Regions from separate parts of the Homo sapiens genome. Here region 2 is linked to region 1. The links come from fine-mapping of genetic effects on gene expression. A gene starts in region 1. The other region holds a variant in brackets. All regions are shown on one strand. Distances are from middle to middle. Region 1 holds the start of SPRY2 (sprouty RTK signaling antagonist 2). Region 2 has its middle 26 kb from the start of LINC01080.

Region 1 (5,374 bases):
AATATAACACTGCTACCAATGTTTTCAAAAGTTGAAAATCCTTTCAAAATTTGAAATAGGTTTCCATTTGTCATAGTCATTTTTGCCTTAAGCGTTAATAATGCAACCTAGAAGATTCTTTCTTGGTTCTTAATTTTTACTTTTACATCAAACACTTTAACTGTGACGTATACGGCATTCTGTAACTTTTTCAAACCAGGTAGAATGAATATGGCATGCAAAAAAGTAAATACCCAAATTCTACAACAATCATGCCATTTTTTATTAATTGTATAGTAGCACAAAGTTATAGAACTAAAAGCAAATCAAATCCTATTAGGTGCCAGAAACACATTAAAGCAAACTTAACAAGAAGAAGACATGAATTTATTTTCAACTTCTCAACAACTTAAGAATTAACTATTTTACAGTCTGATAGCCTAGAACACCACCTTAGATTCTGCAGCTAAAAGGTTGTTCTCCCTGCTAATTGAGAACACAAACGAAGTGATAATAACCAGAAAAGCGTTTTAAAAATTCAAATGTCACATTTCGTATCTAGCATTCTGTCAAGGAATTCCTTAAACTGCAGTCCTTCTTCAATTTCAAAACGATCACCCCCTTTCCCAAGCCTATATGACAATAAAAAGTATAAAACAGGCAAAAGTGGACCTTTATCCGATCTCCGCTCTTTAGAATAGAGGCCACAGCGAACAAGGCAGGTGACAAACGTCTCCCAATTCGGAGCAAGGCAGTGCTGGAAACCGGATCTCCTCACCTCCAAAAGAATGGCAGAAGACAACGCTGCTCTTTGCTTTCACTTAGTTTATCGCCTCTCTGTGCCCCAACACCGTCCCCAGCAGGTGGGACACAGCCGATCCCCAGGGGAGTTTCTCCAGGCGGACTGACGCTGTCCATGGGCCAGGCTGCCCCCCTGCTTACGATCCCCAGACTCAGACAGGCGGGGGCCGCGGGCGCCTCCGAAGGGTACGTGTCACGAAATGCAGGAGCACACTTCCCCCGCCTCCCTCTCCCCAGCTAAGATCTCCCCCAACTCAAGAGAACTGCCTTCCAGCCCCAAGGAGCCACTCCGCCCCCAGGCAGAGGTCACGCCGCCCACTGCCAGGCTTTCTGCAAAGCCCCTCGGACATCCGGCACAGGTTTCCCACCCCGACACTGCGAGCACGAAAGCCCTGCCTGAGACACGCAGCCAGGACGCACAAGTCCAACCCACGCACACACGGCGACTCCACGCTGCACTGACCGAAGGGGGCATTGCCTGTAATCTGCACACGCCTATCTCCTTTTGGGTCGAGAGAAAAAAAAAAGATATCATATTTCTTAAAGTGAAAGAAAAATGGCTTTTTAAAAAAAGGGCATTTTCCAGGGTCCCACTGCTCACTCCGGGCGCGCAGGACCCAGCTCCCGGAGCTGTAAACTTTCGGTGCAGATTTGCTTGCAGTCAAAGTAGCATCTTTGAAATAAAAGGGGGCTTTTTTGTTTTTATTTTTTAAGTGATTTCTGCCGATCCGATCCCTGGCCTCCTTCTTCAAAGCTGGACTCCCTACCTCCGCCCCTCTTCTCTTTCCCAGTCCCCCCTCCCCTTTGAAAGTGCTTTGAAACCCCCATTAAGAACAGTGTGTGATCAGACTGAGGATTAGGGGAAAAGAACTTCAGCTCTAGGGTGGGGCAAACGGACACAGAAACTGCTTTGTAAAAAACACACAAGAATCCAAATTAAAACACAGCAACAACAACAACAAAAGGAAATAAAAAATTGCCTATTTTGCCACCTACTTTCAGGTAATGGAAAATGATCGCGACCGCTTGATGACTTTCTTCCTGCGCTGGGTCAGCCCGAGCTTCCAAAAATAAAATAAGTGTGACCCAGGCTGACCACGAAGAACGGAAGAGAGAGAGCTGCACTTCCGAACCGCAGAGACCCGGCGCCAGGCAGGGCGACGCTCCCACCCGCTCCGGGCTAGACTGTCCACACGGAGCAGAGGCGGGCACTCCCTCCACCCGGCACCCTGCCTTTTTCTCACCCTGGAAGTCTCCTGCCCCCGAGGCGGGCAACCTGTGTCCCCCAGCCCCACCAGCGCCCCGCCTAGGGACAGCCTCTCCCTGGACTTTGCCTTCCACCAAGAGGAAGAACAGGTTAGAAATGCGGGCGCCTGCAAAGGCAACCTGGAAAATACAAAGTGTTTTTCTCTCCCTCTCCCGCTCTCAGCGCCGAATTCGCGGCCAGTGCACGGCTGGGAGCAGACTTCAGGCTAGCTGTCCTCCGTCCCAACCCCCTAGAGCGCGGGCGCGCGGGGTCGCCTGTCGGGGACACTGCACGGGGTGCATACAGAAGTCCCCGCAGAGGCAGGCCGAGCCCAAGCCCCGGGCGAGGCAGGTCCGCGGGGAGCGCCCCGGATCCTCGCGAAGACCCTGCGGGATTTGAGAAAGGGAGGCTCGGGGAGAGACGGACCCAACTCCTGGTCCGGCTGCACCTACTCCATGTTGCCCACAACGCGCCGGCCGCGGCGCCAGGAGGGGAAGAGCCAAACGTGCCTCACCGTGATCGCGGCTTTGCACCAACCCCTCTCCCTTGGATTCTCTTCTTTCTGCGATGTGCAAATAAATCCAGTCTCGATGCAAACTTTTTTCCTTTCTTTCCAACCTCTGCTTTAGACCAACTTCCGAGCAATCGGCGGGAGAAAAAAAGAGAATTCGGAGCCAGATTCCCCGCTGATGAACACTCCGGGGTTCGGAGCTGGAGACGACTCCCCTTCTACAAGCGCACGCGGAGTATTTCCTCTTTTTTCTCAATGAACAAGAGGCCGAAGCGCCAACGGCAAGTCCCTTTTCCTGGCAGATGAGCGAATGGGAAAAGAAAACGGCCTTACGGAGAACCTAAAGCCAGATCGCCAAGTGGTGCGGCCGGGGCCGCGTCGTAGCGGAGGCGGCGCGGGGGCGCGGGCCGGGCCGGGCCGGGCGGGCGCGGGGGCCTGGGCGCTGCGCGCTCCGCCGGCCCCTCTCCTCCGCTAGCGCTGCGGCGCGCAGCTCTCGGCGGTGCAGACTGGGCGTTGTGGAGGCGAGGCAGCGAGGCCGAGGCGGGGGCGGTGGGTGCGGAGGAGGAGGAAGAGGAGGAGGAGGAGGAGGAGGAGGGTCTGGGGCCCGCCCGGGGGGGGCTCGCCGTTGGCCTGCGCCCTCGCCTTTCCGGAGGAGGCAGGGAGCTCTGCGGCGGCCGCGGCAGCAGTAAATGGCGTCATGTGGATCCGAGGCGGAACAGAGCAGTTGTTGTCCCAGAGGATATATCGCATCCGGTCCCAGCTCATTGGCTCCGCGGGGCTACATTCACTCACACTCCAGCGCCCGCCAGCGCTCCGAGCCGCAGGAGGCATTCAAAAGGGCAACCGCGCCGCCCCGCGCGTCCCCAGGCCGGTCCTGCCGCCCGAGCGCCGTCACGCGGGGCGCCCGCGGGGCCGGGCTGGGCACTGCAGGGTCAGTTTATCTAGTTTCAAGGAAACACTGACCTTAAGGTTTGCCCAGAGGCAATGAGGACGAGCCAGAGGCTCGAGCTGACTTAGGGAACTTTCTCCTTGCCACCAGGAAAGGGGAATGAACATTTAAGACTAATCTGGGCCACGCAGTGTTAGCATGAAAAACAAGTTGCAGGTTTTAAGACTTTATCCAGAATCCATTTCAAGTCTACCTCTCCCCTTTTCTGTTCCCCTTTGCGGAGCGGGTGACGGGGGCTGGGGCGGGGGGAGAAGAAGGGGGAGGGGAAGGGGAGCGGGAAGTGAGGTGGGAGGGCTATTGGTTTATTCTTTGTCTACTGGATTAACCCGATTATACACCAGGCACCAGCACAAACCGCCTCCCCCACCTCCGAGCCTTGTACGGGAGGAACGGAATGCAGATTCGAGTTTCAAGTACCTTCTGCTCTTGCTGGGATTTGCTTTTGATTGTGTCGACTTGTAGTTTTTCCGTTTATTAGAATTTCATTTTTAAGGGGGGTTATCTATGAATGGAGGCTTTTTGAAGAGCTTCCTTACTATTTTGCTTCATGCAGTAGCTAAAGTCTACAGTCTAAGCCTTTTAACTTAATTCATTAATAGACAGGAACAAGATTACTCAGGGCGACAGCATGGGCTTCCGAAATGGGGGGGCGGGGGGGAGGGAAGGGTTGGCTCACTGCAGATTTCCTTCTTCCCTTAACTAAAAGTCATCCTTCATTTCCCACTTTTCTTGCCACCTAGAACATTTCTCAAGATTCTGTTGTCCATGTTGAAGGTGCACTATTCTTTCCCATTTACAAAAAAAAAATAAAGATAGAAAATGCATACATATGCACTGTCCTAGCTGCCGTTCATTTACTAAGAAATGTGCCTTCACGTGGGAGCACCAGTGGAAAATTAAAACTTGCGCATACACACGCCTAATATTGCATTCTGTCGAGCGACTTACAGAATGCTTTTACTTTACAGGGAAGTACCTGCTTGTACGGTCAAAATTCCCGAATAGCACCTGCGATCTTGCCCCATGCGGGGTGTTCTTGAAAGCAGTGTTAGGAAAACATGGTGCTTCACTCGTCCAGCTTTAACCCAATCCATTTGCAGCTACCCTGGAACTAGCTGCCTTCTTCTGAGCTCCTGCTCTAGAATGTCCCCAGCGCGCTCTCTGCCTCGCTGCGGTCTCACCCTGACTTCTCCATGTTTCTCTAGGGCTCTCCTCTTTCTCTAGGGATTTGGAACCAGAGATGGCAAGGGAAGTGGCATGCGTTATTTCCGGGCGCTGGCCTACGTCCCCCGACCCCTAAGGTGAGGGTGGACGAGGCTACAACGGCCTGCTCCCGAGCGTCCCGGGACTGCGGGCGCAAAACAGCTGGGCCTCTCTGGCCACAGCCGCTCGCCGGACGCCCGAATCCATTGAGCCGACGGTGAACGCAGGCGCCGCTGCGCTCGCGGCCCCTCTGGCCACCAGGGGGCGCCCGCCCGGCGCGGGGCTAAGGCTGCTTTCTTCTCCGGGACACGACGCGGACAGGCTGGGTTACCTTCCAAAACGTGTGTGCATTAGGCCGGCTGGTTTAAAATGAATACAAAGATATTAATATAAACGACACAGAAGATAGCTTGCCCTCCTGTCTGCTTGGGAGGGTCAAAGCCTGGGTGTGCAAGGCTAGGCAGGAACGTGCTGCCGGTGTGCGGCCAGCAAGTCTCTCGAGCAGAGCAGGTGAAAGCAACGCCGTCGCTTCGCCTCTTCAAACTCCTGCACTCGATGGCGGCTTTTTAGGAGACATCTGTGCCTTGCTGGTCTCCCAGCGCTGCAGGAACTTTGCGAAGATACATCGTTAGGGATCAAAGCATGCAATGGAATTTAGATCAGAAACTTCCAGCTGTTTAGAGAA
Region 2 (5,374 bases), 300 kb before region 1:
ACGAAACCTAGTGTTATTCTAGCTGTCTTCAGTCACCAGTAATCCCATGTTCCTGGACTATGAAGCAAGTTAGAGGTCTTGTCAGAGGACTGTGCGTGTGTGTGTGTGTATCAGCAAAAATGAAAAGTAGAAAATATTAAAAAATACAAAAAAATTAACTTCAAAAATCTTAACTAAGTTGTTCTCAATGTGTGGTCCTCAAACAAACTGCATTTCTGACTTCTTAGACATGCACAATCTCAGGCCCTCCATAGACCTACTGAGTTGAAACCTGTGTTTTAGCAAACTCTCTGGGTAATTTTGATAAACATTACAATTTGAGAACCACGGCTTGAGAAGAAGCCCTCCAAAAACTTCAAAGTAGTATGCAAACTAATTGCGTACAAGTACATTTCGAACAAGGTTGAGGCTAGCCAGGGTGCTTTTTGGAGATGACTATTCTTATGGCTCGATGTCTAGCTTATTTTTCTCTTTTACCTCCTAAGTGTTAACATCTCTGCTTCCAGTCCTCTTGTGAATCTGTTTTGCCCTTTTCTTCTCTTCTAAAGGAAGCCTTTTATGGTTAGATTCAGTTGGCCGTGATGTTGGGATATGCCAAAGCAACAGAAATCCACACATTTCCTTTTCCAGATGACGAGCTTAGGATGGTCTTGTGGACTCTGTTCTACTCTTTTCTACACTTTTTATTTCGAAAACAATTCAGCCTGTTATAAGCCAGACTTATGTGTTTCCTTGAGCAACATCTATAGCAGGTGTGTGGCTTCCACATGTACTCATACAAATAAAAAATAATACATGAAAACTTTCATCTCCACTCCCACAATTCAGATTCACAAAAGTATTCCCCAGGTAGATTGTAAATTTCCATATAGATTTACTAGCTGGCAGTTTGCAGCTGTATCAAGTGTTGTTTGATCAGCATCTGGGAATGTCCAGAGAAAGAACCTATAATTGTTATTCTGGATCTGTAAAACAGCATGCCTTCCAGCCACTCCATGTTTTCATTTCCATATTTATGCCCCAGAATTTATTATCTATTTTCCAAATTCTAAACTTACTCAAATACTTTCATGCCTGGGCATTATTCCCAGTGAATTATTTATCATATAGTGAATTATTTCCTCATATAGTTTTTGTAGAATATTTTCTTATCTTTACACCATTTGTCTTATTCTGGCAGCCAAAATGGTTCTACCAGTAGATAAAGAAGGTAATATGATTCAGAGAATGGTAAATGGCTTCCTTGCAAAATGTCTCCCTTACTAGCATGATATAAGGCCTGTGTTTTAATTGATTAGTCAAATTTCCTAGCTCTGATCCCTCTCCCCCAGCTCTGATCCACGTTTTCAACTCCTTGCTTGGTGTCATTCAACCTTCTGAAACATGTTTTTACTCTGGAGCAATGATTCTTAAACTATTCTCTCCATCACTGTCACTTGCTGAACCTAAAACACAGATTTCTGGGCCCACCCTCAAACATTCTGATTCAGTGGGTCCTTAGTAGGGCCAGAGGATTAACATTTCTCACACCCTCACAGGTAATGTTGATGCTGCAAGCTGACATGACACTTTGAGTATCATTCATTTGCTTGACTGTTTTTGTGGTTTACCTTTAATTTTTACATGTGAAGCAGACACCACTGATGTCTCAGCCATCCAAAAGCCATTTCCCCTTTCTCCTTAATAATAAATCCTAATTTTCTATAGGGAGTCACCAAGGCCTTTTGCTTCAAGAAAGCCTGCCTTAAATTTCAGTTCCAGGATGAGAGTTGTAATAACTCTAAGATAATTGAGTTAATAAATTGAAAATAATAGGCATTTCATTCCCCTGTGAATTGCCTAGCATGAAACATGAATAAGATTGTCTGAGGAGCTTCTGAGACAGGATTCTTCTCTCTCAAGAATACACCTGGAAGAGCTAAACCCTTTTCAGAACCCTGGATTGATGGGATGTGATTGCAAGACAACTGCAACCAGCTTGTGACCATCAAGATTTATATGAAAACATTACATTGTACCCCACAAACATACATGCAATTTAAAAAAGGAGAGAGATTGCCATATGCTGAGGATAGTCAGGTAGAAATAAAGAAAATAATTAGGTTCTTAAAATGATGATGAGCCAACAAATTCACTAACCTGGAGCTGCTTTGCCTCAAGACTTATTATGTGGGATTTCTGTTTCCTGCAGCTAAAAGCGTACTAATTTATATTATCTATCTTTCTATCCATCCATCCATCTATTTATCTACTTATCTATATTTCACCTGTCTATATATCTATGTATTCATCCATCTATCTTTAACTTATCTCTACAATTAGATTTTATTTTCTTAGTAAATATTAATGAAGAGAAAAGATAGTTATAATACTATTAGAATATAGCTATGTTAGTTGGGGAGGCTAGCTTACCACCTATCAACATCAAATCAAGAAATAATCACATTTTATCTTATGCAGAGTTTTAGAAAGAATAGAATATAAGAACATTAAGTGTGGTGGGATATGCATAAAAGGACAAAAAGTCAGGATCTATTCAAGTGCACCAAAATGGTGGCCCTGGATTCCTGTTACACGGCAGGAAGGAACTGGGTAGACTCCATTTTTAAAATGTACTTTTGGGTGTCCTTTTATGCACTCTCACGCTTCAGTAATTCATTTTCCACCCTGCATTCAGTGTAATTATAAAAAAGATCTGATCAAGCCATTCTCATTAGAACTCTGTAAAGTCTCTCATTCTTCCTATAATAACCATTTGGAGCCCTTCACTTGGCATACAAGGCCCCAAGTGAGCTGGTTCCCAGTGGTCCCTCAGCACCATGTAGTACCACACTCACTGCCCCTAGCCCCGAAGTCCTGCTTTC[A/C]ATTCTAGGTTCCTGCCACATGCAATTGCCTCACAAACCTTTACGTATAACACTTCCTCTTTTTAAAAAGGCATCTCCCACATCTTTGCCACTTCCCAATTTACCCTTCCTCTCTCACAATTCAACTTAAATGTCATCCCCATACTGAACCTTTTCTTGAGACTAGACTGTCTTCTTCTGTTCTTATACTCTTATACATAATTCTCTTCTGTGATACTTATCACATTTAATTGTATAATTAAATGTGCAATTAATTATTTAGTCTCTGTTTCCTAAATTACCACATGAGCCCTTAAGGGCAAGAACACATCTGTTTACTACCATATCCCTGGCACCAGACACTAAACATTGGTTGAAACAATCTCTTTTTTCTTCAGGCATATTCTCTGATGACATGTATGCTTCTTTTGTGAAACATTCAATAAATAAGAGTCAACTTGACTTTACACATGACCTTTCCTGCCACTATAGTCAAATGGGCAAAAATAGGCATTAATTTTCTTGCTTCACAAATGAGAAACTGAGGCCCAAAGAGTTTAACTAACCTGCTCATTTTTGTTCCATCTATGTTGACATTTGAAGTCAGAGAGCCTGACTCCTACTCACTGGCTTTTCCTTAGACTAGTCACTCACAGAACATCATTACTCAGCCTGCTCACAACACAACACTCATGCTTAAACAGAGTGCAGCTTTCTTCCGGCCGCTGCACCAGAATTTTATGCAGCTTACCCTGCCCTGAGTCATTCATGGAAAGCATCTGGGAACACATTATGTAAAATACACCATCTCACCTAAAAATGTTCTTCCATCACTAGGGCACAAAGGGTCAGTGGGGTGTTCTGGGAGAGTTATCTGAAAGGAAAGCATACATTTGGGGAGAACATTGCTCCCCGATTATGACCCCATGACTTGCCTGTAGAAAAGCTGGCGGGTGCTCAAGTGTAAAGACCTGGGAAAGCTTGACACTGAGTAAAAGACTTTCCGTTCCTTCTGTAAGGAGATACATTAATGCAGTCGTGGAAATGAATATCCATTCTGTGGTTTTGAACCTCTGAAAGTAGCACTTGGGCAACTAAAAAGTGTCACACCATGCCCTAGAGCTATAGAGAAAACTTGCAGAGTAATTGGTATTATTTGCCCAAGAGATAAGTGGCTTCTGAGAAGTTCCTATATGGTTGTGGACATGCCTCCGCCTCTTGTTTTTCCTTCTAACACTATTCTGACTATAGCTTAGGAGTGAGATTCTTCAACACGGTCACTATTGATGGCCTATAGTCTGCATGCTTTTGTTTTCAAATAAGCAAGCAGTTTATCCCTGCCTCAGGAAGTATAAAGACTGAGAAATGTCAACGGGCCAAGTTAAAGAAATATAAAGTCCAGTTTAGGGGCTATTAAAGGGCTTGGAAAATCTGTATTAAAATTTTGACATCAAAGTTATATGCTTCTCTCAATCAATAAACAATTGTTGAGTATCTGCTCTGTGTTTATTTGTGATGGGAGCAGTCAGGAAATTCAAAAGAGCACTCAGGGAGGTAGAAAGGCAGAGTAGATAGAACAAAGGCCTTAGAGTCAGAAGAATGGATGTGGTTTCAGATTTTCCACTTATTGGGTCAACTTCCTTTGGGCCTGTATCTTATTTGTATAGCTCTAATAGCCTTACCAACTTCACAAGGCTGTTGTCAGAACTGGGGAAGAAAAGTATATCAAAACAAACCCCCCACCACCAAAACTCATTTAGCATTTTGCTAGCTCTTTCAACAAATATTTTTGAAGGCCTATACTAGACTTAAAAAAACTTACCAGACAAAATCCAAATGCTCATGATAGACTCCTGTTTATTCTTCAAGGTTCAAATCAACTACAGCCTCTTCTGTTATGTCATTCCCTAAAATAAATCCCTTCCTTAATTAATCTTGAATGTCCTTACTTCATTGTGTTACTTTATATATTTGGTTAAATGTCCACGTTCAACCCTAAACTATGAGTTCCTCAAAGACAGAGACTGTGCCTTATTCACCTTTGTGCTGACATGATGCCCAGAGTAGCACCTGGTCCAGAAAGTATGCTTTCTTTGGAATCTTAGACTGGATGTATGAAAAGATGAATGGGTATGGGACAGCCTGGGCTCTGAGAGGGAAATCAGCATGAATGCAGGAAGAAGACCTTGACTGAAACAGAGGGTGGGTTTTGATTTGCAAGAGGAAGTGAAAGGAAGACAGTAAGTCCCATGACGAGAACCTGGTGAACTATGTTGAGGAATTTGGACTTAAATTTATAAGGTGTCAGAGTCTGTTAGGAATCCTTTAGCAAAAATATGATATGATCAAACTACTATCCAGACAAAAAAGAAAAGCTCTTATAATTGGAGAATTCTGCCCATAATCAATGTCTTGCTACACACTGAATAGAAAAATTTCCTGGAGCCAAAGATGGTCTTGCAATCCCGGGAAGTGCCCTTCTGCTCATGTCCAACAGGAAGTCATCAGGATAGATACACAACAGTGTATCT

The links.
Region 2: its variant is fine-mapped to the expression of SPRY2 in whole blood (TOPMed, PIP above 0.99).

What each region holds. Positions count from the first base shown.
Region 1 is chr13:80,338,082-80,343,455 of GRCh38, forward strand. It overlaps SPRY2 (sprouty RTK signaling antagonist 2), which reads right to left and starts at 3,045. Exons shown (of 2, transcript NM_005842.4): 1 at 2,541-3,045. RefSeq lists enhancers at 849-898, 4,869-5,374 and silencers at 2,993-3,182, 3,413-3,462, 4,862-5,051.
Region 2 is chr13:80,034,141-80,039,514 of GRCh38, forward strand. No RefSeq gene overlaps it. Among named protein-coding and RNA genes, the nearest start is that of LINC01080, 26 kb to the left of the region's middle. The variant A/C (reference allele first, on the strand shown) is at 2,865.